3 separate regions of the Homo sapiens genome follow, and all the other regions are linked to region 1. Evidence: fine-mapped expression QTL. A gene starts in region 1. Each other region holds a variant in brackets. All regions are shown on one strand. Distances are between the middles of the regions.

What was found. PIP is the estimated chance that this variant, and not a neighbour inherited with it, causes the effect.
Region 2: its variant is fine-mapped to the expression of DNMT3A in whole blood (INTERVAL, PIP 0.97).
Region 3: its variant is fine-mapped to the expression of DNMT3A in whole blood (TOPMed, PIP above 0.99).

Annotation. Positions count from the first base shown.
Region 1 is chr2:25,336,858-25,347,516 of GRCh38, reverse strand. It overlaps DNMT3A (DNA methyltransferase 3 alpha), which reads left to right and starts at 5,592. Exons shown (of 23, transcript NM_022552.5): 1 at 5,592-5,691. RefSeq lists silencers at 4,920-5,399, 5,460-5,669, 5,960-6,129, 6,230-6,469, 6,750-6,869 and 2 more and an enhancer at 4,680-4,799.
Region 2 is chr2:25,261,895-25,269,894 of GRCh38, reverse strand. The region is part of intron 6 of DNMT3A (DNA methyltransferase 3 alpha); the gene reads left to right. Among named protein-coding and RNA genes, the nearest start is that of LINC01381, 62 kb to the right of the region's middle. RefSeq lists enhancers at 4,727-5,311, 5,312-5,895. The variant A/T (reference allele first, on the strand shown) is at 3,945.
Region 3 is chr2:25,275,850-25,283,849 of GRCh38, reverse strand. It overlaps DNMT3A (DNA methyltransferase 3 alpha), which reads left to right. Exons shown (of 23, transcript NM_022552.5): 4 at 1,139-1,409. Among named protein-coding and RNA genes, the nearest start is that of MIR1301, 49 kb to the left of the region's middle. RefSeq lists enhancers at 5,207-5,796, 5,797-6,386, 6,977-7,568 and a silencer at 6,289-6,918. The variant G/A (reference allele first, on the strand shown) is at 3,950.

The DNA of each region.
Region 1 (10,659 bases):
GGGGGCAAGGGTAGACCTACTGCCACTTTTCTCTTTTGAGTCAGGAGTGTAGGAGCTAAGCCTTCCGCTGGAGACCCTGGGTAGAGGATGTTAGAGGAGCATGTGACCTGTGAGGGGGCTGGGAGGGCCCCTGTGGTAGTCACTGGTGCTAACTCTATCTAGTTCTCCCCACTTTGAGGCCCATGGTAGCATTTACTTCCTGGTCCTTGTAAGTGAATGGAGCTGTGTGACTGCCTATAGTGACAAGTGCCTTTTGTCAATGGGACACCCTCTGGTACTCTCCTTGAGATAGTGGCTTTTCTGTCGACCAGGGTCCCTGAGTATTCAATGAGCAGAGCCCCCTACCTCTACCCCTCTGCAAACCTGCGATAGACATGTGACACGGGCAAGAGAAGGAACTTTCGCGGTTCGTTGGTAATCTACTGAAGAAATGTAATGTACAGTTGGACTATGCTCTATTTTTTTTATTGTGGTAAAATAGACATAACATGAAATTTATCATTTTAACCTTTTTTTTTTTGAGACGGAGTCTCACTCTGTTGCCCAGGCTGGAGTGCAGTGGTGCAATCTCGGCTCACTGCAAGCTCCACCTCCTGGGTTCAAGTGATTCTCCTGCTTCAGCCTCCCCAGTAGCTGGGACTACAGGCGCCTGCCTCCATGCCCAGCTAATTTTTGTATTTTTAGTAGAGATGGGGTTTCACCATGTTGGCCAGGATGGTCTCCATCTCTTGACCTTGTGATCCACCTGCCTTGGCCTCCCAAAGTGCTGGGATTACAGGTGTGAGCCACCGCGCCCGGCCTTTTTTTTTTTTTTTTGAAATGGAGTTTCACTCTTGTTGCCCAGGCTGCCGTGCAGTGGCATGATCTCGGCTCACTAAAATGTTCGCCTCCTGGGTTCAAGCGATTTTCCTGCCTCAGCCTCCTGAGTAGCTAGGATTACAGGGGCCTTCCACCACACCTGGCTAATTTTTGTATTTTTAGTAGAGACGGGGTTTCACCAGGTTGGCCAGGCTGGTCTTGAACTCCTGACCTCAGGTGATCCACCTGACTCAGCCTCCCAAAGTGCTGGAATTAAAGGTGTGAGCCATCACACCCGGACCTTTTAATCTTTTTTTTTGAGACAGAGTCTCGCTCTGTCGCCCAGGCTGGAGTGCAGTGGCATGATCTCGGCTCACTGCAACCTCTGCCTCCCAGGTTCAGGCGATTCTCCTGCCTCAGCCTCCCAAGTAGCTGGGACTACAGGCGCCCGCCACCACGCCCGGCTTTTTTTTTGTATTTTTAGTAGAGACGGGGTTTCACCGTGTTAGCCAGGATGGTCTCGATCTCCTGACCTCGTGATCCATCTGCCTTGGCCTCCCAAAGTGTTAGGATTACAGGAGTGAGCCACTGCGCCCGGCCTAATCATTTTTAAGTGTATAGTTCAGTGTCATAAGTACAACCACCACCGCCATCCATCTCCAGAACTTTTTCATCTTCCCAAACTGAAACTCTATCCCCGTTAAATACCAAGTCCCCATTCCCCCTCCCCGCAGCCCCTGGCACCCACCATTCCACTTCTGTCTCTATGAGTCTGACTACTCCAGGACCCTCATATGAGTGGAATCCTACAGTATTTATGCATTTGTGTCTGCCTCATTTCATTTAGCATAGTATCCTCAAGGTTCATGCATGTTGTTAACAGGTGTCAGGACTCCCTCCTTTTTAAGGCTGGATCATCTTCTATTGTGTGGATAGACTGCATTTTGCTTATTCATTCATCAGCTGATAACATCAGGTTGCCTCCACTTTTGGCTATTGTGAATAATGCTGCTATAAACATTGGTGTACAGATATCTACTCCAATCTCTGCTTTTGGCCGGGCATGGTGGCTCACGCCTGTAATCCCAGCACTTTGGGAGGCTGAGGCAGGTGGATCACCTGAGGTCAGGAGTTCAAGACCAGCCTGGCCACCATGGTGAAACCCCGTCTCTACTAAAAATTAAAAAATTAGCCAGGCATGGTGGTGGGCACCTGTAATCCCAGCTATTTGGGAGGCTGACACAGGAGAATCACTTGAACCCAGGAGGCACAGGTTGCAGTGAGCCGAGATCACGCCACTGCACTCTAGCCTGGACAATAAGAGGGAAACTCCATCTCAAAAGCAAAACAAAAGAAAACAACACAACAAAAAACAAACAAAAAAATTTCTGCTTTCAATTATTTTGACTGTACACCGGAAGTGGAACTGCTGGGTTATATGGTAATTCTATGTTTAATTTTTTTTGAGGTACTACCATACTGTTTTCCATAGAAACTTTGTGGTTTTGAGTCACTGAGATTTGGAGTTGTTTGTTACTGCAGGACAACCTAGCCTGTCCTGATACTGCCACATACCCTAGATAATCTAGGATCAGCCAGGATTCTGATGAGGCCACAGTGCGGCAGACACAAGTGAGGGGTGTAGAAGCCGAGAGGCTAAACCAACCTGAGTTAACCCAGTATGAGGTGCAGTGATGAGGGTTAGCTAGCACAGATATGCCTCCTCTTGGGACCAAAGACATTAAGGTCAGGGTCTGGAACCAACCCTGTAGCCAAACGGTTGTTTCTTAACAGACATAAACCCCCTAACACAGTCACCTTGGACCTCTTGACCCCAGCAACCCATACATCCAAGGTTACATACTTTACCATACTAAGTGACTTTGGTGGCTCCTAATAATGTCATCATAAATAGCCCTATTGAATAGAAATTTACATTTGCTCATCATGGCCCTGAGAATTTCAGCTTTTTTTTTTTTTTTTTTTTTTTGAGACAAAGTCTTGCTGTGTTACCCAGGCTGGAGTGCAGTAGCACGATATCAGCTCACTGCAACTTCCGCCACCCAGGTTCAAGCGATTCTCCTGCCTCAGCCTCCCGAGTAACTGGGTTTACAAGCATGCGCCATGACACCCAGCTAATTTTGTATTTTAAGTAGAGACGGGGTTTCACCATGTTAGCCAGGCTGGTCTTGAACTCCTGACCTCAAGTGATCCTCCCGCCTCGGCCTCCCAAAGTGCTGGGGTTACAGGCGTGAGCCACTGCACCCACTGAATTTCAGCTTCTTAAGAGCAACTATGTTTCAAAAGTGTGGTGTGGGCTGGGCACGATGGCTCATGCCTGTCATCCCAACACCTTGGGAGCCTGAGATAGGAGCATCACCTGAGCCCAGGAGTTCAAGACCAGCCTGATCAACATAGAGAGGCCCCTATCTCTACAAATAATAATAATAAATTAGCCAGGCATGGTGGTGTGCATCTATAGTCCCAGATACTCAGAAGGCTGAGGCAGGAGGATTGGTTGAGCCCAGAATGTCGAGGCTACAGTGAGCCATGATCACTCCACTGCACTCCAGTCTGGGCAACAGAGCGAGACTGTGTCTCAATAAAAGAAAAAAAAAAAAGATGTGATGTGGGGTGATTTCAGAGCCGGATGAACCTGGCTTTGAATCCTGACTCTGCCACTTCCCAACTGTATGGCTTTGACTAAGACTGAGCCTCAGTTTCTTCATCTGTAGCGTGAGGAGAGTACAAGCCATATCACAGGGCTAGTGAAGACTAGAGAAAATACCATGTCTGGTGCCTGGCACATAGTAGACACTCAGTAAACAGTCGCTGCTGTTTGGGGCCGTGTTATATGTAAGCCCTTGATGAAGGCAGAGGTATCTCAGTCATCCTTCTATAAACGGTCTTCTCCTTTGCCAAGCTGGGTGCGCCATTTAGAGTGTTCACGGATGCCCCTCCTGATGTAGAAAGCGAACAGCCCAGGAGGGTCACATGTTAATTCCACCAAGGTTTACTGAGAATCTCCTAGCACCAAGTGCTGGGCTACAGGGATGACAGACGCGGCCCCTGTCCTCACAGAGCACTGGGAGTCTCTGGGCCGGTGGGGACCATGGACAGCAGGGCCTATCATCAGTAGGGCGGGGTGGCCACTTGAGTGAGGGTGACACTGAAAACGGCCAGAACTATGGCCTAGAAGCTGGTCTCAGATATCGAGGCTCAGGGTGGGGGTTGGGGAGACGGAGGGACCTGGAAGCATTGGAGAACCTCCCGAAGGAAAACCTTCCCGTCTGTATGAAAGGTCAGCTCCCGGTCCCAGAGAACTTGGCAACTCGGTTCTGTGACGCTAAAAGGGTGGCGTTGGGGGGGCGGGTGCTGGGCTGCATGGGGAGAAGGGAAAAGTAGGATCCGCTTCACTGTGAAGTGAGTCCCACCACCAACTCCAGCAATCCCTGCCCACAAGTAGGATGGCGGGTCCCTGGGAAGGGAGCACGCCATGTCCTGTGCCAGTCAGGGAGCTCAGGGCACTGTGATATAGCTGAAGTGCTGAGTAGAATTCGGGGTGCAGAGCTGCGGGTGGCTGGTGGGGTGCTGGGGCGCGCAAGGAGGCTGGAGGCGGGGGTGGGGGGGTGCCCAGCCCCAAGTCCTACAGCGGCTGCTGGAGGAGTGAGATGAGCACATAGTGAGTGGCTGTGCTGGTGGAATTAGACAGAGGTGCCCCAAGTCAGGAACCTAGAGCCCTGAGCGCTCCATGGGGAAGGAGAACAGCCCCCACGGTGAAGGGGTGAGGGCGGTGTGTAGGCACACACAGAATCTTCCAGCTGGAAGAGACCTTCAATGTCATTTCATTCAACCTCCCACCTCATGAAATCTTTCAGTCTTCCAGTGCCCAACTGAGGACACCCAACTCTACTTGGACACCTCAAGGTACGGGGAACTCACTCCCTTCAAGGCAGCTCATCTCAGAGAGGCTTTGGAGCCTGCGGGACGGCCAGGAGGAGCCTGGCGCTCCGACCTTGGCCCTGTAGAGCAGAGTGGCCTCTACTCCGCGGCGGCACCTGGCTGGGGGTTGCGGCGCGGTTGGGCCAGCGCTGCTGTCCCCAGCCCCAGTGCTGAGGCAGGCAGAGCGCAGTGGGCTCTGGCGGAGGTCGGGAGAACTGCAGGGCGAAGGCCGCCGGGGGCTCCGCGGGCTGCGGGGGGAGGCACTTGACACCGGCCCGGGGAGAGGAGGGGCCGCTGTCCCTGCGGCCAGTGCTGGATGCGGGGACCCAGCGCAGAAGCAGCGCCAGGTAGCGGGGCGCCCAGCGTGGGGAGGGCTGCGGCGAGGCCCGGAGCTCGGCTACGACTCGAGGGGCTCTGAGTGGCCGGGAGCGCGGCCGAGGCGGGGCGCCCGGGGCCCGGCCCCCGGTCTGGGCGGTGCGGGGTCCAGACCTCCGCCAAGCGGCGTGCGGGGACCCCGGCGGGGCCGCAGAGGCCGGGAAGTCGCGCCGAGGGCGCTAGGACCGGCCGCGCGCCCAGGCCGCTCCCGCCGCGGCGCCCCGGGGCCCCCCAGTCGGCGCTGCCTCCCGGGCCGGCTCCGCAGCGCCGGGGCCGGGGCCAGCGCGGCCGCGGGGGGCGAGCGGCGGGCGGAGGCCTGGGCCCGCGGGCGGCCGGAGGGAGGGAAGGAGGAAGGCGGAGAGAAGGGGTGGGAGGGGGGGACCCGGCGGAGGAGGCGGAGAGAGGGAGCGCGACAGCGAGCGGAGGGAGGGAGCGAGCGAGCGAGGCAGGCAGGCGGGCCGGGAGGGAGGGAGGGCGCGCGGGCGGCGGCGGCGGCGAGAGCAGAGGACGAGCCGGGACGCGGCGCCGCGGCACCAGGGCGCGCAGCCGGGCCGGCCCGACCCCACCGGCCATACGGTAATGAGCGCCGCTGCTGGCGGCCCGGAAGGCCGGCCCGGAGGCGGCGGGGAGCCGGGGAGCCGGGCGGGGGGCGCCGCGGCTGGCAGTGCCCGGCTCGGGGCACGCTCCCGGACCCCTGCAACTCGGCGCCGGGCGCCCGTGGGGCCGGGACTGCAGGCGGGGACGGCGGGCCGGGCTGGCCGGGGCGGCGCGGGGGATTTGAGGGTTTGTTTATGTCCCCGCGGGCTCGGCAGGCGCCCCCTCCCGTCCCGCCCGCTCCCGGCGCGGACCCCCCTCCCCGCCCCCGCCCGGCTCCGGGCTCAAGTTCAAGTCTATACAATGCCGCGGGGGGCCCCTCCACCGCCGGCCTGCGCCGCGGTGCCCGGCTCGCCGCTGCCGCAGGGGCCCCGGCCGGGCCGCCCCCGCCTTCCGGGCTCTGCCCCAGCCCCGCGGCCCCGCCTGGAGCCCGCGGCCAGGGCGCCGGAGGGCGCGGACCCCGACCCAGAAGGATCGGCCCCCGCGGCGGCCCGGGGGAGCGGGGGAGGGGGCGGGGGCCGGGCCCCGCGCAGGCTCCGCGGCGGCGGCAGAAAATGGCAGCCTGGCACGACCCGGCCCCCCGCCCCTCCCCCCGGCGCCCGGCCCTCCTCGGCCCCGCGGGGCGGGGGACCCGGGAGGCCCCCGGGGGCGGGCCGAGGGGTGATGGCGGGGCCGGGCCGGGGAGCGCCGCGCCGCGATCCTCCTCCGGCCACCTGTGGCTGGGGGTGCGGGGCGCCGGCGGGGCCGGGAGGGGCGGCGGGGCCGGGGAGAGCGCCCGCCTTGGGGGCACACCTTCCCCCGGAGTGCCGGCGGCACGGAGAGGGGTGGTCGTGCCCGGCTCCTCCCTGTCCCCACCGCGGGCCGTGGGTGCCCGGGCGGCCGCGGTGGCGGCGCCGCAATGTGGGGGCGGGGCGGGGGCGGGCGAGGATCCCGGGCCCGGGCCCGGGCCGCGGGGGCCGGAAAACGCGGGGGTGGAAGTAGCGGGGCCGGGACCGGGAGCGGCGCAGGGGGGGTACGCCCGGGGTCGCCCCTCCAGCACCCCCGCGCACACTCCCACGCACGCGGACACACTCACGCACACGCACCCCGCCGGGCCGGTGCAGACGTGTCCTTGAAAGCTTCGCATCTGCACAGTGAAGGACGAGGCCTCGCCGCGGCTGCGGAGCGGGGTCTTCGGCCCCACGTCCCCGCACCCCGGGAGACCTCGAGCTTCGGAGCCGCAGGCGGCGGCTGTCCGTGTCCCGCCCTCACCCCAGTTCCCCTCCCCCAGGCCGCCCTGCCTTCCCTCCCCTTCGGCGCGGACCGGGCTGGCGCGGGTCCAGGGCCCGCCCCTGGCCTCCCCCAGCCCCTCATCGCTGGGGCCCGCGGCCCTGGGGCTGCCAAACTGCTTTTCGCTTTCCTGAAGCCTCCCTTCTTGGGGGCACCCTCTCCCACCCCAGCGCCCCTCTGCCATTTCTCCCCCTCTCCTCATCCCCTCCGTCCTGGCACCCTCTCTCCGCTGCACGGCCAGTTGAGGAGGTGTTGGCGCCCTGGGCGGGGAGCAGTGCCCTCTGGTTCCCAGGGGCTGCCTCCCCCGGCTCCTGAGGGGAGCCCCCTGCGGCTGCACCTTGACCCAACATGGCGTCTGGCACCCAGCAGGGCAGCTCTGGCCTGCGGCAGGCGGGAGGGTGGGCAGGGCCGAGCCCCAGGGCCGCGCAGCTACCCCCCCTCCAAACCAGCGGGGACAGAAGCCTTGGGGAGAAGCGCTGTCCGCCCTGTGACCCAACTTGCCCCTCACTGCCGTGCCCAGAGACTGCCATCAGCATCCCTGAGGGCCTGCTCAGTCTTCATGTTTCACCCTAGGCTGCCAGCGGCTGAACCCGCCTCCTGGGCGGGCGGCTACGAAGGGATCCTGGGATCAGGTGCTGCTCCAGTGTCGCCTCCTCCCTCGCGGGCAGATGTGACAGCTGCAGCCAGGGGAGCTATTCGCCTTGCTATTGCCTGGGTGTTAGGACTGGCCTGTGGGATTTGGGGGGCCAGGCATCCCGGGGACCCTCTTTGGTTGGCTAGCAGGGGCCATCTCCAGGTAGTTTTCTGAGCTGCCTGCCTTTGGAGAGTTGGGTTGTAGGGAGTTCCTGCTGGGTTTCTGGGGCAAAATGGTCCCCCTCTGCCTCCAGGTTCTACCGAGGCCCTGCTTGGGCTGTGACAGGTGGCTCTGTCAAGGTGGGAGTCTGTGTGTGCACATGTGCTGGCTCCAGGCGAGGGACCAGGCTGGCCTGTGCAGCAGCTCTGGCACCTGCCTGCCTCCCTGGTGGGTCCCCCTCCTCTGTGCAGCTCCTCCCCAGATAAGCAGCTGCGGATTCAGGCCGACCAAACTTCCCTCGTTACCCCACCCAGGCACCAGTGCCTTCCATAGGAGACTGACCCTAAGAAAGGTGAATTCCTTCTAGACTCAAGGAGTGGACTGGTCCACAGGGCTGCCCTCTGAGTCCTTCCTGGAGAAGCCTAGGAAAGGACGCCAGCAGCCATCTGTCAGGGTGTCTGCGGACAGGATTCCTCTGTGGGGTGGGGGTTGGACTAGAGCCGGAAGGTCCATTCCAGCTTTGACATTCTATGGCTCTGATTCTAGTGGTGGAATTTCAGGCCTAGCAATGGGGACAGGGTGGTCTGTTTTTCGGCACATGGCAGTAATAGGGGAAGGCTTCCAAGGAGAAGGAGATATGAGAGAGATCAGGGCGCCCAGCGAGTTGGGCCTTGGGAAGGAGAGGCAGTGTGAGGAGGGTCCCTGCAAGAGACGGGTTGGTCACGTCCGACTCTGCAGAGGGTGTAAAAAGTACAGCCTCCTTTAAGCCTCGGCACGTGTGTATCCTGTAGGTTTGTGTATAAATCCCTGTGTGTGGATAATTTCTGAGGTTTCCTTTTCAAGTCCAATTCACAGTAAGCTCCTCAGTCCCTTATGGATGTTTTACTATCGCTTTCACACCCACCTCTGCCAGTGGTTCTCAAAAAGCTAGGAAGACAGGACAAACGGTAAAATCCTTGTCCAGGGTCACCGGCAGGAAGAAGTGGAGCCAGGCCTGCACTCGGGGGAAGATGCCCCATGCTATACCTCTTACCTGGGCTGCTGCATGTGTCTGTCCCCGCTCTCAGTTTGTGATCTCCAGGAAACAGGGGCCTTGCCTCCCTGGGTCCCCATTGGACAAGCGGTGAGGCCTCCGAGGGTGTCTGCTGAGCGAGGGGAGCGCACTGCCCTCCAGTCCTCTCCCCGAGGCAGCGAGGCAGGTTAGTGCTGGGCTCCCTTCCCCCTGCTGCTGTGCGCCGCTGCCCAGCGGCCACTGCCTACTTACAGGCCAGCTCCTCAGGGTCACACCTCCCTGAAAGACCCAAGTTCTTTCCCAGCAAGAGCCAGACTCCCCCAAGGCTTCTCTTTTTGGGATCCAGGTAGAAAGAGGACTCTAATGGGTGAGTTAAAACAGACCACCCTCTCCCCATCTTTGGGCCCGAAATGTCAGCATTAGAACCCAAACCTTAGAATTGCAGTCTGAAAGAGGAGTTTAAGCTCTGAGAGCTCTTAGTGCTGGGTACGGGACTGTTTGTGGGAGGTGGTGCCCAGTTCTTCCCAGGGTTGTCCATGCTACCCAGAGCCTGAGGCCTGGAGGGCCATTCACGTGCCAGTCACATGCCTCTCCCAGGGTACTTCCTGCTGCCTCCAACTTGCTGGCCTGGGGTCCTGGACTTGGTGCTCGTATCCTCCCCACCCCGTGCCCCACTGGGAGTTGAGTGTGTCTCTGGCCTCCAGCAGGTAGGGCCAGAGCATCTACCCCAATGCCATTCCCCATGCTGCGGCCCTCGGGGAATAGCTTCTACTTTTGTTTGAATATTAGTATGTGAGCAGAGAGCCCGTCAGAAGCCCACCTGGCCTGAGGCTGGGTTTCTGCAGGGACTTTGCTGTTCCTGAGCAGGGCTTTAATGGTCTACTAAAGGTGCCAGATCCCTTTCCACTTTAATTTTGAGGGCTCATTTTCAATCATTTCTCTCTGACGATTTTTCCCTAAGAACATGACCAAATCTGAGATCCATGAAGTGTCAGCCTGAGATTTATGTCTGTATCCGAGCCTGCCTCCACTTGGCTAAGTGTGTGGGCAAGACGAGGTTCAGTGCACATGTGTCTGTGCATGATGTGTGTGTACGTGGTGTGCCGCCACCTGTGGATGGGTAGGACTTGCTTCCACATGAGCCAGTGTCAAGGCAGCTTGAGGCCCTCGAGTCACAGGGAGCTGCACTCTGACACCTCCCAGCGGCAGGAACTTGGGCAACAACTCGATTCCCTGGGCCTCAGTTTCCTCACCTGTAACATGGGAGTGTGCGTGGATTCTGCTTACAGGTGGTTGTGAGGATGGAGTGAGATCATGTGCGTTACAGCCTTAGAGGAGCGGGAGCCCTCCTGTTAGCTGTGTCTGTTTTCATCATTTGGGTGGCTCACGTGGACTAGCACTGCAGGAAGTGCTCTAAGAAGCCTCGTCCACCTTCCTGTGTCTTTTGCAGAATCTTGGTCAGATGAGGAAAGTGCCGATTCTGATTAAAAATCCTGGGAGGTGGGAGGCTTCTCAGCGACACTTAGCAATCTGTTGAGTTGAACAAATCTCGTGTCAACAGGTTGTTTTGCTTCCACCTGAAATCCCTCCCGCTGTAGTTTCAGCTCGTTATTCTCATCCTGTCTTGAGTGCAGCAGCACTTTCCCACCGTATTCGCTTCCATTTTCCAGAGATGTGCTGAGCATTTCCTGTAAGCCATGCCCTGTGCTGGCTTTGAGGGGACACGGTGTGTTTAGGATGCGCCCAGCTAACGAAGAACTGCAGAGTGGGACTGGGGTCACTGGAGAGGGAGAAATAAAGTGCTCAAAGGAGAGTGAGGTCACAACCAACTAAGGTCATCAGGGAAGGCTTCTTGAAGGAGGTGGCATCTCAGAAG
Region 2 (8,000 bases), 76 kb after region 1:
CCCTCCCCCAAGATTTAAGACGACTCAGAATGTCACAAAATGAAAGAAATGGAAAATAAGTGAACGGGGAAAATGAGACATTTCTGCAGTCCCTGAGGCTGAAGTGAGAATTCCTGCTGGAGCTGGGAAGGAAGTTGTTGTCTTCTGTCTGTTCCATCTCCTGTTGCTGTTCCTTCACCTGCTTACTAGTCCTGTAAGGACTAAGCTCTGTTTTAATCATGATCACACCCTGCCATAGAACCTCCAATGGCTCCCCATTGTCTCCCCCATCATGTCAGATACCCTCTGGCTATTTCTCAAGTCTTCAACCCTTCGACCTCCACAATCAGCCCACCCCACTTTCACTACAGTCCTCTAATAGAAGGGTGTCCCCTAGGAAGGGACATTGCCATGCTCCTTCCTTCCTTCCTGTCATCGTTCCTGCTGTGATTTCCCCAGTCCATTCTTCAGGGTTGAGGCCAAGAGCTGCTGCCTCCTCCAGGAAGGTTTCCAAGATTTCTCCAGTCCACAATGACCTCTTCCCTTCCCTGAATCCCTGTAACCCTCACTGGGGTTTGTTTGTTTGTCTGAGACAGTTTCACTCTGTCTCCCAGGCTGGGGTGCAGTGGTGCAGTCTCTTGGCTCACTGCAACCTCCACCTCCCAGGTTCAAGTGATTCTCGTGCCTCGCCTCAGCCTTCCCAGTAGCTGGAATTACAGGCACGCACCACCACACCCAGCTAATTTTTATATTTTAAGTAGAGATGGGGTTTTGCTATGTTGACCTGGCTGGTCTCGAACTCCTGACCCCAAGTGATCCGCCTGCTTTGGCCTCCCAAAGTACTGGAATTACAGGCATGAGCCACTGCACTCAGACTGTCCTTACGGTTAATATTACTTAGCACTCAATCATATTTCATCAGGGTATTTTTCACTGTTTCTTATGTGTTGATCACATCTTCCTCTGTCTGGCCTAATGCAATGGGCAGGGAGAACAGGCCCAGTGAATACCTGCTGGCTGGCTAAGCAGTTGGGAGGTAGGTGAATGTGGGACCACTTCTCTGGGAACATGAGATCTTAGATTTCCACCATGACAAGGGCCCACACACTTGATTTCGAGGTGGTTTTTCCAGGGGTGCTGACAGGTGTACCTGGAGGATGGCATGGGGACTGGTATGGACAGCCTCCATGGGTAAAGGGGGGCCAGAGTCTCCTCCATCCTGTATTCCTGCCATTCTCACCAGGCTTCTGAGCTGAGGAGAACCTTCCTTGGCCTGGCAGAGCTGGCCAGGGCTGTGGGGAGGGCAGGGTAGGGCAGTTCCTCCTCCCAAAGGAAGGCACTCCCTTAGCTCCTCTTCCTTCTAATTCTCAGAGCAAAATGCACTCTGATGGAGGGCTTGAGGGTTAGGAAGGGCCTCTCGCTTCATTAGCCCTCCCTGTAGCTCTGCAAGGCAGATGAGCACAGAGACCCAGGGTCAGTAGCTGGGCGGTCATCTCGCCTGGGAAGCCACTCACTCCAGTTTGTGTCGCGGCTGGTGGTTTTAGGACTCAGTTACAGCACATTGATGGCATGACTCGCTCATTAATCTCTTCACCCCAGCCGGATTCTAAATTCCGTCTAGGCAGCGGGTACCATGTCCTATTGTTCTAGGATCTGGTCTCTTTCCTGCTTCCGACCTGAAGGTAGGGACCCTTGACTCATGCATCCTTATACTTATTAGATGCTTAATAATATTGAATAGTGATAATGAAACATCTGTGACTGGAACATCATAGTCTCTCCTCCCTTCCCTCGCCACACTGAGATACAACCCACTCCCTCCGCCCAGGGCTGCCCAGCAGATAGCAGAGCCTTCATGGACCTTAAGGGTTGGCTGCTGTTTACTGCGACCTTTGGAGGCAAGTTCAAATACTGCCTTAAGAAAGGTCCCACTTACTGGGTGTGGGACCTTAGGCATCACTTACCCTGTACCCCAGCTGAGGTTCCTCCTCTGTGGATGGACTTGGCTGTACTCTGCATCTCCATGACAGCAGCACTCGCCAGCTTGTTTTCTGCCTCTACCCATTTCTGCATTTAAGCTCGTTCAATACAGGCATTCTGGGCACCCCCTGCCCCCAGGGCTGGCATGTGGGAGGTGCAGGGTGAAAGTGTGCTGAATGAATGAACAATTCTTATCTCAGAGTTGTGTGGACAACACACAACATTTAAAGCTCCTAGCACAGAGCTAGCATATAATAGGAACTTTATAATTTTTTAGAAAGTATTTTAAATTACATAAGTATTACACAAATACATTCTTGTGAAAAAGTCCGCCCAAACTTGCCACCCCAAAATTTTATTTTGAGACAGGGTCCTGCTCCATTGGCCAGGCTGGAGTACAATGGCATGATCATGGCTCACTGCAGCCTCAACTTCTTGGCTCAGGTGATCCTCCCACCTAAGCCTCCTGAGTAGCTGGGACCACAGGCATGTGCCACCACACTTGGCTAATTTTTAAATTTTTTGTAGAGATGGGGGTCTCCTTATGTTGACCAGGCTGGCTTTGAACTCCTGGGCTCAAGCAGTCCTTTTGCCTCCACCTCCCAAAGTACTGGGATTACAGGCATGAGCCACCACACCTGGCCTGAAAATTTAATTCCTTCACCAGAAATACTTGATGCTATCAGTTTGGTGTAACGTCATGATTTTTTCCTATCCGTGTGTATGCGTGTAAATATATAATTTTGCTTCAGGGGTTCTTTTTTTCCTGTTCTTTTTACACAAATGGAACCACACTGTAGTTTCATTTTACAGCTTGGTTTTTGACTTCCAATAAGTCTGTGCAATCTAGCCACGTAATTACTATTATATTCCACCATGTGGATTCCCATGGTTTTATTTAGCCATTCTGTTATTGGTGGCCATTTATGTTGTTTATGATATTTTACTGTTTAGCATTGCAGCGGTGAACATCCTTAGTCATACCTCTTTGTGCATCTGTTTCTCTAAGACAGATACCTAGAAAGAAAAAGGCCTAGCTGAAGGGAATGTGCATTTTACATTTTATGACATCTGCCAAACTGCCCTCTAAAAAGGGCACTCCAATTTATGCTTCTGTGAACAGGGTATGAGAAGACCTTTGCCAACATCAATATTTTGCTAGTCAAATGGGTGGGAAAATAGTATCTTGTTATGCTTTTAATTGGCATTTCCCAGATAATAAGGTTGAACATCTTTTCCTATGTTTATTGGCCATTTGTGCTGCTGCTTCTATGAGCTTAGCAAATGTTGCCTCCTCTGACTTTACAACCCTGCAGTCTCAACAGACTGTGCTTCCTGTCTGCCCTGAGGAGAGCAGGCCATGAATGTCCAGAAGGTCCCCCATGCTGTGTCATATTCCATTTAATAAGCAGTCACTCAGCACCTACTAAGTAAAGGGGCCTTGTGCTAGGGGCTATGGGAAGGAGGAGATAATAAGGTGTGATCTCCTGGGCTTTAGTCTAGTTCAGGAGAAATGGAAGTGCAAAGTAGACCAGTAAAGGCTCAAAACAAATTATTAGCCAACTGTATGGGAAGCAGTTTTAGAGCATTTGGACTGGAAGACATTCCTCACTTATTTGCCCTACCTGACCTTTTGCAGCGTGGCCTCAAAAATAACATCACCCTTGAAGGAGATGATGATGTTTGGAGTAGGCACAGCAAGTATACTTTACCCAAGGCTGAACAAGTTCTAGAGGCTCCCATGACAGCCTGTAAGCAGTAGTGACTTCGAGGGCTGGCCTTTACCATAGGCTACTAAAGTTGCCACAGAGGGACTCCCCATTGTCCTTTAAGTAGATGGGTTGGTTGCGCACCAGAGTCTTCACTTCTGGGGCACAGAGAGAACAGCTCTTAGAACAACCCCTACTTTTTAGTGGTGAGAAAAAAAGAGGCAGGGTGGGGTAGGTGACTAGTTGCTGGCCCAGGGCCAACTCCTGGCCACAGCA[A/T]AGCCTGAACCAGGGAAAGGGTGTTGAACTTCACTGAGCACCTACTTTACATCAGGCACTATGCCAGGAGCATTAGCTTTCACCACAATCCTAAAACATATTATCTGCATTTAATGTCTTTTTTTTTTTTTTGAGATGGAGTCTTACTCTGTCACCCAGTCTGAAGTGCAGTGGCATGATCTCAGCTCACTGCAACCTCTGCCTCTTGGGTTCAAGCGATTCTCCTGCCCCAGCCTCCCAAGTAGCTAGGATTACAGGCACCTGCCACCACACCCGGCTAATTTTTTGTATTTTTAGGAGAGATGGGGTTTCACCATGTTGGCCAGGCTGGTCTTGAACTCCTGACCTCAGGTGATCCACCTGCCTCAGCCTCCAAAGTGCTGGGATTACAGGCATGAGCCACCGCGCCCGGCCAGAAGTATTTTTTTAACCTGTATTTTGCTATTAGAAAATTAAGATTTATCTAGGTAAGTAGGTTGCGGCCACATGGGTATCCTGATGGAGTGGCCCAATGGGCAAAACTAGACTCCAAATCTCGTGTTGCTTCTGTTGTGTACCCAAATGACTAACCTACACTCCCAGTTTTCCTGGTTTCCTGGCTTGGAAATTGTCATGAAATTGAAGAATGCATTTAGAAGAGAGGGAGAGAGCTGGCCCGGCTTTCCAGCCTGCCGCATGCTCTTCCCGCCCCCGGCCTGCAGTTGTTGGGGCTGCTCCCCATGCCTCTTTGCCAGGAGGCTCAGGTCCCTTTCAGCCTCCCCGACCACCCCTCCCTGCTCTACTCATGTGGTCCTGAACCCTTGCCCTTGAATTGCTGTTTTTTCATGACCATGTGGATGATGTTGTGAAACTGGATTAAGAAAATGTTGGAATGAGATTTGGGAGGCCTGGTTTCTCGTCTCAGCTTCTGCCCCTCCTTAGCTATGGATGTGAGGAGGTCTTTCTGCTTTCGGCATTTTAGTTTCCTGGTTTATAATGCGACAGAAATAGATGAGATGACCCCAGAGATTCTAAAATTCCATCACGGCAGGTTGGGGGGTGAGACTGGAATCATGATCTGCACTCTCTTTATTACCTAGATTACCTTGTACATAAATTCTAAATTAAATATTTGAGTGAATTCTCAGACCTCGCATATACGTCTCTTCTAAAGGCACATACGTGAAGCATCCTTATAAAAACTCTTTTTGGCCGGGGGTGGTGGCTCACGCCTGTAATCCCAGCACTTTGGGAGGCGAAGGCAGGCGTATCATGAGGTCAGCAGATCGAGACCATCCTGGCTAACATGGTGAAACCCCCTCTCTACTAAAAATACAAAAAATTAGCCGGGCGTGGTGGCAGGCACCTCCCAGCTACTCGGGAGGCTGAGGCAGGAGAATGGCGTGAACCCGGGAGGCGGAGCTTGCAGTGAGCCGAGATCGCACCACTGCACTCCAGCCTGGGCGACAGAGCCAGACTCTGTCTCACAAAAAAAAACAAAACAAAAAACTCTTTTTAAAAAAAAAACCTTTGGCCCAGCACAGTGGCTCACGCCTGTAATCCCAACACTGTGGGAGGCCAAGGCGGGTGGATCTCTTGAGGCCAGGAATTCGAGACCAGTCTGGCTAACATGGTGAAACGCCGTCTCTACTGAAAATACAAAAATTAGCTGGGCGTGGTGGCACATGCCTGTAATCCCAGCTACTTGGAAGGCTGAGGCACAAGAATCGTTTGAGCCAGGGTGGTGGAGGTTGCAGTGAGTCAAGATTGCGCCACTGCACTCCAGCCTGGGCGACAGAGCGAGACCTTGTCTCAAAAAAAAAAAAAAAAAAAAAAAAACCAAAGGGTTGTCCAGCCTTTACTGAGCAGATACTGTGTGCTCAGTCTTTAAGATACCACCTTGTGTGTCTGGGTGTCTACTATGTTCCAACATTTTCTAGACACTAAGGAAGCAAATTTAAAGGCAAGTCAGAATTCTACCCTCCCCTGTGAGAGGTTGGTAGGTAAATGAATGAATTGTGCTGTAGCCAGGGCAGGGTTGTTTTAGAAATACTAAGGGAAGGACTGTGCAAGCAACTCCCTAGCCCTGCCTAAGGGCCTCAGGGAAGGCGGTGCCTAGGGAGAGGCAGTGTACCGCCATTGACCTGAACAGGACTGCTTGGCAGGGACAGTGGGGGAAGGGCATGGAGTGGGGTCCTAAGGGAGGTGGTCAAAGAAATCCTCTAGGAGTTTGGAGTCTAGAGTGCCTCAAAGTTTTTCCCATAGCACTGTCTATGGGGCTGACAAAGCAGAAAATATAATAGCCAATGTTCTCTCTGCTTTAAAAACCAGACTGCTTGTCAGGGAGGCCGTGGGATGTTCACATATGGGGTGGTCTGCCAGAGCCCTCTGCCGCTTTATTAAGAGGCCAGTACACTCGTTAAAGGAGTTAATGGACCTCAGTACTTACTACTGATTGCTTAGTAATTCAGTACTTGGTAAATAAACATGATACTATGCTAGTGGCGGGGTAGGGGGAGACCAATTGGATATAGTCCCTGTCCCAGAGGCACACATTGTCAAGTGGAGGAGGCAGGAATGTTTCCAACAAGCCTCAGTGGCAGTCAGAGCGTGGGGCTTGCTCTGTGCTCCTGTGTAAAGAGCCCAACATGAAGCATAAAGGAGCATGAGAGCAGCTTCTGGAGGACTCCAGGAAAGCTTCCTGGAGGAGGCAGGCATCCTTTGAGAATTTCAGTAAGTGCAAAAGAGGCTGGGTGCAGTGTAATCCCAGCACTTTGGGAGACCAAAGTGGGAGGATTGCTTGAGCCCAGGAGTTCAAGAGCAGCCTGGGCAACATGGCCAGACCCACTCTCTACAAAAAAAATATTTAATTAGCTGGGCATGGTGTTGTGCACCAATGGTCCCAGCTACTCAGGAGGCTGAGGTCGAGGCTGCAGTGAGCCATGATCATGCCACTGGACTCCAGCCTGGGTGACAGAGTGAGATACTATCTCAATAAATTATAAACAAACAAATAAAAAAGTGTTAAAGAGGAGGAAGGCATTTCAGGAAAAGGAACTACTGAGGGCAAAGAGAAGGAGGCATGACTTCTGGGTTGTTTAGGGAGTAGTAAGAGATCTGGTAACTAGGGTGCAGGGGTTAGGGAGGATGGGCAAGAAGAGACAGAACTAGAAAGCAAGATGGTCACATCCTCAGTGGTCTTCCTGCCATAGTGAGAAATTTAGGCTTCGTTGTCCAGTGGAGAGCAGGGGTGGAAGAGAATTGGACACATAGTTTAGGAAGATAACCTGGCAGGACAATAAGTATTCCCCAGAGAGAGGAAGTTTAGAAGCAGGACCAGGTAGGAGAACATTACATTTGGCCTTGACTGAGGGTTGAGGTAATGAGAGGCAAACTTGAAGGAATTGCTAGAACTGGTCCTGGTTGGAGGGGAGGGAAAAATTTGTCTGGTATTGGGAGCTGGGCTGGGGATAGGGTTCATTATCTGAGGTAGAGAATCTTGGAGGAAGAGCAGGTTTGAGGCAGGATGATACAGTGAACTTTTCATTTTCTTATGTATTCTGATGAGCAGAAGTTTTTAATAAAGTCCAACTTACCCATTTTTTTCCTTTATTGGTTAGTGTTTGTGTGTGTTATCTCTAAGAATTCTCTGTCTACCGCAAGGTCTTTAAGATATTTTCTCTTAGGAGGGGGTGGATTTTTGAGCTAGGGTTTGGATAAGCTGCTTTTGAGAAGCCAGCAGATTGGTGTCAATGGGGACAGGTTTTTTTTTTTTTTTTTTTTGAGACGGAGTCTTGCTCTCTCGCCAGGCTGGAGTGCAGTGGCACAATCTCAGCTCACTGCAACCCTTGACTCCCTGGTTCAAGTGATTCTCCTGCCTCAGCCTCCCGAGTAGGTGGGGTTACAGGCATGTGCTGCCATGCCCAGCTAATTTTTGTATTTTTAGTAGAGACGGGGTGGGGTTTCACCATGTTGGCCAGGATGGTCTTGATCTCCTGATCTCATGATCTGCCCACCTTGGCCTCCCAAAGTGCTGGGATTACAGGTGTGAGCCACTGCGCCCGACCCCAGGGGACA
Region 3 (8,000 bases), 62 kb after region 1:
GGTAGTAAGTGAGGAGCTTTGTCCACTGCGCAGTGACACACACAGACAGCCAGGATTATTCTTTATTTGATTTTTATTACCTGGAACCTTAGCGAGTTCAGTTCTTAGACTCTAGGGGATAAAGAAATGATTTCCCTTGAAGGGAGAATGAGAGACCCCAGTGCTCAGGAAGAGTTGTTGCAGAGCCTGAAAACTGTTTGCCAGAGCCTTGGCTCTTCTGGGTCTGAGTGCCTGAAAGAATCTGGGGCGGCCCAGGCCAGGGGAGAAGGCTACGCTAGGCTATGAGCCTACAGAATGGTTTTTTGGGGGTCCTCCTTCGACTCTCATGCCTCAAGAGACCAAGAGGAAAGCTGGGAGGGCACTGACCACAGAAGTCAGACCAGCCTGAGTCCCAGACTTGATCTGGTGGCACTGGAATCTTCTAAGGGAGAGGGGGGTCTTATTGGATTATGGGTGGCACAAGGAGCTTTTTTTTTTTTTTTTTTTTTTGAGGCGGAGTCTTGCTCTGTCGCAAGGCTGGAGTGCAATGGCGTGATCTCGGCTCACCGCAAACTCTGCCTCCCAGGTTCAAGCGGTTCTCCTGCCTCAGCCTCCCGAGTACCTGGGATTACGGGCATGCACCACCATCCCCAACTAACTTTGTATTTTTAGTAGAGATGGGGTTTCTCCATGTTGGCCAGGCTGCTCTTAAACTCCCGACCTCAAGTGATTCACCTGCCTCAGCCTCCCAAAGTGCTGGGATTACAGGTGTGAGCCACCACGCCTGGCCGGAGCATTTCTTTTTTAACAGGGGCTGCAGAGAAGGCTTGGACGTCCTATGTAACCTCAGTGAGTGGCGGTGGGATGGGGGAGCCGATCCCTTGAGAAGTGCAACCAGGCTGGCAAACCTGCTTGGATTCTTTTCCTGTTTCTGAAGCTGGAGTCCACAGACTCGTGATTTCAAGGGGTCAAGCCCAGGAATCCTTTGATGTTGAAAGCAAAATTGTGAATGTATCTGTTTGCATGAAGGTTTATATGAACACAGTTTCTGGACAGAAAGTGCATAACATTCTCTAGAATTTCAGAGCGGTCAATGATCCAAAACAGGCTAAGCCCACTGATCTAACCCTCCTCTTGTGTATCTTTCTTACATTTGCAGGTGGAAAGCGGTGACACGCCAAAGGACCCTGCGGTGATCTCCAAGTCCCCATCCATGGCCCAGGACTCAGGCGCCTCAGAGCTATTACCCAATGGGGACTTGGAGAAGCGGAGTGAGCCCCAGCCAGAGGAGGGGAGCCCTGCTGGGGGGCAGAAGGGCGGGGCCCCAGCAGAGGGAGAGGGTGCAGCTGAGACCCTGCCTGAAGCCTCAAGAGCAGTGGAAAATGGCTGCTGCACCCCCAAGGAGGGCCGAGGAGCCCCTGCAGAAGCGGGTGAGTCCTCAGCACCAGGGGCAGCCTCTTCTGGGCCCACCAGCATACCCTGAGAGTCAGGGACTTGGCTCTCCAGCAGGTCCCAGGAAGGATGGTCTGGGTCGTGGCTAAAGGTCTGCTTGCCAAGGCTATGGCCTGGAGGCTACTGGCTGGATGCAGCCTGCGCATATGTTTTATTTGGCCCATAGAGTGTTTTAAACATTTAAAAAATTAGTTGCCAGTATTTAAAAATCAAAAAATTTCACATAAAAATCTGGAGTTTTGGCTTCTCATGAAAAAAAAAAAAGCTAGATCTGGCAACAGCGGGCTTTCATAACGCCAACGATTGCTAGACTGGGATAATGGCGGTCCCTCCATCGCCTTCTGTGGCTGGTTGTGGGCCTTAGTTTTCTGCAGCTCTACCTGGCCTGCTTACTCTCCCACGTGCCATGCAGTTCCTGGGGGTTGCTGTATTTGTAGCCCCTGGCCTGGGCACTCAAGGGCAGCAGATACCCTGTTTGCCTCCCTGAGTGCAGAGGTCCTGAGCCCACCCTAGTTGGGCTGACTCAACTGGAAATTTGGTTGTGACAGTGGCGTGGGGAGAGGGCTGGGTGATTGTATTCTGTGTACTGCCCAGCCCAGGCCTCTTCATCTGGGGACTTTTTGGCCTAACCCTGGAAGCCTGGAAAGTTGCCCACTTTTCTCTTTCAGGTTAAGCCAGCAATTTCAGGGCCAACCGAGCTGTAAACATGTTAGTAATGAGGACAACTAGCATTTGTACAGGGCTTCACAGTTTACAAAGCGCTTTCTCATACATTATCACATTTGATCCTCCCAGGGCCCTGCCAGGTTGTTTTGCATATGTGCATTTTAATTTCAAAAAGTCTTCCTTCCAAGCGTGTATGATGAAATGAGTAAATTGATTAATTGGCGTAACTTATTTTGCATGGATCCAACCTAATGTTCATGCAGGATAGAGAACATTTCCAGAATACAAATTTCCAAACTTATTAAGAAGCTTTTATTCATTTATTATTCGACAAATATGTATGATGCTCCCACTATGTGCAGAACACTACAGAGGGAATCTGTATTAGTTGTTTTATTTACTCCTCTAACAATCTTATTCAAGAGATATGATTATCCTCATTTCAGGAGAAAAATATTGAGGCTTAAAACAATGATGTGACTTGCTCATGGAGCCCCAACCTTAAGTGGCAGATCCAGGGCTCATTCAGTCCTGGTCTTGTGCCTTTCTACTATTTTCCGCTGTCCTGGAATGGGACTTGGTGCGGAGACGGGTCCTGAATTGTCTAGGCCTCTTGCACATATTCTGATACTTCCCGAGAGTGGGAAGGGCCTGAGGGGAGTGAAACAGATGAGGAAAGGGAGAAGACACCATCCTTCCCATTAACAATGCCAGGTGTGTGAGAGAACCCATCAGCCCTGCCCTTCCAAATGTGGTGCTTCCCATGGGCTGACTGCAGTTGACTTCGCTTCCCAGGACCCCACCATGACTCCTGCCGAGCTGCTACCCAGGGTCACGGCATTCCTTCCTGCCCTGAAGCATGGAGCCATAGCCCCAAAGCTGTTCTCTGGCCTTGAGGGTTTGTTTTCACTTTGGGATTTCCCTACTTCCATTTCTAGCTGTTCTCAAGGGCTCCTGCATCGATCAGTCAACAGGTGTTTCTTAAAACACCCATTCAGGGTGTGCTAGGATCCATACCAGGGACTGGGGAAACTATTATGAACAAAAACCTGCTTCTTGCCCTCAAGGACCTCACAGTCAGCTGGAGAGACAGACATTAATGAGAAATCCACCCTTAAAAAGATGAGATTACACATGGAGATAAGCGCTCTAAGGGAAGTGAAACATGTCCAGGGGAACTGCAACGAAGAACCTGAGTTGGCCTGGGCTGTCCAGCGCGAGCTGAAGGGCGAAGGGAGTCCACTGGGTGAGGGGTAGAGGGAGAGAGTGAGAACAGGGAAGAAGGCTCCCAGGTGGGAGGGAGCAGGGCACCCAGGGAACTGATAGATGTCACAAGGCTAGAGTGCAGAGAGCAAAGGAGAAGGGTGTGGAAAGTGCTGGGGCAGACAGGCCAGGCCTTCAAAGGTGGCTGCCGGGGTGGGGGGTGGGGGGGCGGGGAGGCGGGGGGTGGGGAGGCGGGGAGTGGGCAGTGTGTGTGATGTAATCAGCTTTGCAATTTGAAAAGCTCATGTCATCTGGATCCTGGGATGGAATGGAGGAGCTGGGAAGCAGGATGACATCGGAGGGGCTGATGAGCAGGATGGCAGCAGAGATGAAGGGAGGGGACAAATGCCAGGAACATGAGAGGTGAGGGAGAGATGCTGTCAAGGATGATTCCTGGGTCTGGGACTTTCAGACAGGTGGATCTTCCTTAGAATCTTAGTGCTGAGTGTGGTGGGCAAAAACTCTTTAAGTCTCCTTGACCTCCAAAATTTGGCCTTGAGGCTGGGCACAGTGGCTCATGCTGGTAATCCTAGCACTTTGGGAGGCCCAGGCGGGCAGATGACTTGAGGTCAGGAGTTCGAGACCAGCC[G/A]GGCCAACACAGTGAAACCTTGTCTCTACTAAAAATACAAAAAAAAATTAGTCGAGCTTGGTGGTGCATGCCTGTAGTCGCAGCTACTCCGGAGTCTGAGACAGGAGAATCACTTAAACCCGGGAGGTGGAGGTTGCAGTAAGCCAAGATTGTGCCACTGCACTCCAGCCTGGGCAATAGAGTGAGACTCCATCTCAAAAAAATACAAAAAAAAAAAACAAACTTTGGCCTTGGTACACTCCTGTGTGGTCCCAGCTATCCAGGAAGTATAGATTCTGGCAGGGATCAGAGCTGGTAGGATCCCTGAAGGCCACTGCACTGCCTGGAAGCTGAAATTGGTGAGATGTTACCTCGCGGGGTGGGCAGTGGCCTAGGCTCTGCCAATATGCAACGGACAGTGGCTTAATCAGGGTGTGGAGGCTCGGTCACGGTTCCAGCAGTCAGCTGACATAGAACACATGCTCAGCTGGTTGATTCAGATGAGGAAGGAGACTAAGGCCCCGGAGAGGATGTGGCTCGGCCGTGGTCTCCTTTCAGTTCCCCTTATTCCAGGTCTCTTTTCAGGGGATGCTCTCCTGGAACCCCTTTCATTAGCTCCTGTACAGCAAAAACAGACTTTTTAAGGCAGCGTTTCTTGTAGCCTGAGCATGTGCTGAAAGTACAGCCAGGAGAAAGAATCAGGAAGACGGGAGATGATGAGATGAGTGATAGGGACAGGAGCCAACACCCGACAGGCCTGTGCTTGTCTTGGGTCTGTTCCTGCCCCCGCCAGCATTAATGCCATAATGATGATGATTCAGGTGGCAGTGGCGATGTGGCTTTCCCTTATTGAGTATTGACTGTATTGGGCATTCTCTCTCCTCGCTACTCACAGTGGTCCATAGACCAGCAGTGTTGGCAGCACCCAGGAATTTAGAAATGCAGAATTCCAGGCTCCACTGAAGACCTGCTGGATCAGAATCTGCATTTTAAAGAGGGCCTCATGCTTCCCATGTATATGAAAGTTTCAGAAGCTCTGCTGTGTATTATGCCCCATGTGTGATCACGGGAGGAAGATTTTTTTTTTTTTTTGAGACAGCGTCTCATTCACTCTGTCGCTCAGGCTGGAGTGCAGTGGCACAATCTTGGCTTACTGCAACCTCCACCTCCCAGGTTGAAGCGATTCTCCTGCCTCAGCCTCCGGAGTAGCTGGGATTACAGGCGCCAGCCACCATACCTGGTTAATTTTTGTAATTTTAGTAGAGACAGGGTTTCGCCATGTTGGCCAGGCTGGTCGTGGACTCCTGATCTCAAGTGATCTGCCCACCTTGGCCTTCCAAAGTGCTGAGATTACAGGCATGAGCCACTGCACTCAGCCTGGAAGACTCTTATTATCCTCATTTTTCAGATGGGGAGACTGAAGCTTCAGAAAGGTTAAATTACTTACCCAAGATTATGCAACTGGTGAGAGACCGGATTAGGGTCAGCACAAAACCCCTCTCTACTCTGAGCATAGGGCCCCTTTTCAGGCCAGTGACTGCCCTCTGAGGTAAACCTGGCTACAGCCTGGTCATGGAGATTTGAGTTCATTTTAAAGAGAACTTGGGTGGCCTCTGGCTGAGTATAGCTCAGACTCGAAGGCGAGTGTTAGAAGCACCCTGGCCTCCCCTGCCCCCAAGTCCTGAGATGCACTAGGGTCATGTTCGGGCCTGTCAGGGCCACACTGGAAGGTCACAACCACCTGGCCCTGGCGGTGACCCTGGGCCTGGGCCAGGAGCAGTTGGGCTGCATAGGCCGTACTGAGAGAGCAGCTGACCCTCCCTGACTCACGACAAGTGCCGCATTCCGAGGCGGCCCGGCCAGGCTGGAAAGCGTGTGTGTCTGTGTGTGTGTGTGTGTGTGTGTGTGTGTGTGTGTGTGATCACTCAAGTGGGCATGCGCAGAGTCTGTCAGGGAGAAAATTCCAGAAAGAAGCCAGTTGGAAACTGCATAGGGAAAAATCGTTCTGTTTTGGGGAGCTTGGGGGGCTGGGAAATTAGGAAGGGGGTCACATTGAGAAATAACAGTAGTGGTGCAGCGGAGAGGGAGCTTGCCGGGGCATCAGGACCCCTGAAAAGCTCATCTCAGCTCCGGCCTTAAGTCACTCCACCCCCCAGGTCTCAGCTTTCTGCAAAATTTAAGTGCTGAACAAGTACTCAATGATCTCTGCAAAGCCTTTCAACCCTGATTTTCTAATATTCTAATGAATAAATAATTATCCGTAAAAGTAATTAAATGCCATGGAGGGTCCCAAGTAGGAAACGTTTGAGGTTCTAAAGCGGGCTGGGGAGAAAATGCAGTCGGAAGCCCCAAGTCCAGGTCCGAGAGCCAGCCCGGGGGTCCTCCACTCCCCGCCCTAGCCGCAGGGCTGACACAGTGGTTCCCAGCGCCACCGCGAGCCCCGGAGCCCCGCCGCGTCAGGGTCCGCCGGGACCGCCAGGCCGCCCCCAGGCCGCCACCTGATCGCGAGCAGGCGCCCCCTGCTGGGAGCCCGGGGCCTCACCGGGCAGAGCAACGAGGTCTGGGAGGAGGGGGAAGCCCTGGCCTGGGAACGGGGAGGCCCCGGACAGGCTGGAGGGGGCCCCCGCGAAAAAAGTGGGGAGCTGGCTGTGGTGGGAGAGAGGACGGAAAGGAAACAGGGAGGCAGAGCCAGACAAGATGGGTGAGACAGCCCTTAAAAGGCCGGTCACGAACAAAGCGCTGGCGAGTGCGCGCCCGCCCACGCGCACAGGTGCCCGCGACAAGACGCCCCGTCCCCGCCCACGCGGCCCCCGCGGGCTGAGCCCGGCGCCAGGCCCGCACCCACGGTGGCCCTCCTGCCTCCCTCCCCCTGGTGCTCCCGGGCCTAGCTAGCGGGAGTCGCTGTCACCAGGGACAGAACCACGGAGGACAGCGCTGTCCTGGGCGCCCGGGGTCAGCCCAAAACCAGTCCAGGACCCCCCTGTCACGAGGGAAGGGAGTGGCCTCCCGGGCTGAGGACCCGCGGCGTGAACACTGTGGCTGGCTTCCGCTTCACAGCCAGGAGATGAAGTCGGGGCTGTTTTTTCCGTTTCAGGCTCTTTGTCTCCCCCCACCCCAAGCTACCATGAGCCAGCCTTAGTGACCTTCCTGCAGTGGGCCCAGGCCCGATACGCTGTCGGTTCCCGACAAAGAAGCTCAGGGGCCCAGGTGGAAGGAGGGCTCACTTCCCCACCTCCAGCAAGAAGCTATGGGAGGCAGAATCAGCCAGCCCCGCAGCCTCCGGGGCGCTGGGCCTGGAAGGGGTGCCTGGAAAGGGTGGTGAGGACCTGGTGGGGAGTGCAGGGGGATGCCTGGGAGGAGCGCAGCTCCCCTCATGCTGGGGGCTTGGAGAAGCACAGGGAGAGGGCAAGGTCTCAATAGGGAAATTGAGACTTCCCTGCCAGGACCTGGAATCAGGGCCCAGTAGAGGAAATGAATCCTTAGGGAAGGAGAACCACACTAACATGTATTGAGCACCTACAGTATGCCAGGCCCCACAGTAGGCACTTAATGCTCACCATAACCTAATGATTTTAGAACATTTATCTACCTTGATTCAGTGGGAAAACAGGCCAGGAGAGGTTACAGAGGTCACACTGGAATCCAAACTCAAGTCTTCTAGATTAAAGGCTGAGCTCAGGGGCCTGAGCATGGGGCAGGGAGTGGAGGGACGGAGAATGAGATTAGTAATAGAATCATAATATTTGGACCTGCAGGCGGACCTTGGAAATCGCATCCAGCATCCTTATTTTCCAGATGAGGAAACTGAGTCTCGTAGAGAGGAAGTTGCTTCACCGGGGTCTTGTTCCAGTTGGCCCGGTACCCACCGCCCCCCAGTACATGCCCTTATGCCCAGAAGGCCTCTGCAAACACTCCCTTGCAGGGCCAGGGAGGCCGCTCAGGCTGGCCCTCTGGCCCAGGCCTTCCTGCACCCCCTCCTCCTTCCGCACCCCCTCTGCCTTCCTGCTCCTCCTTTGGGGAAGGAGGTCTCTTGACTGGGAGCAGCAGAATGGGGGTATTTTTAGTCCCCTTC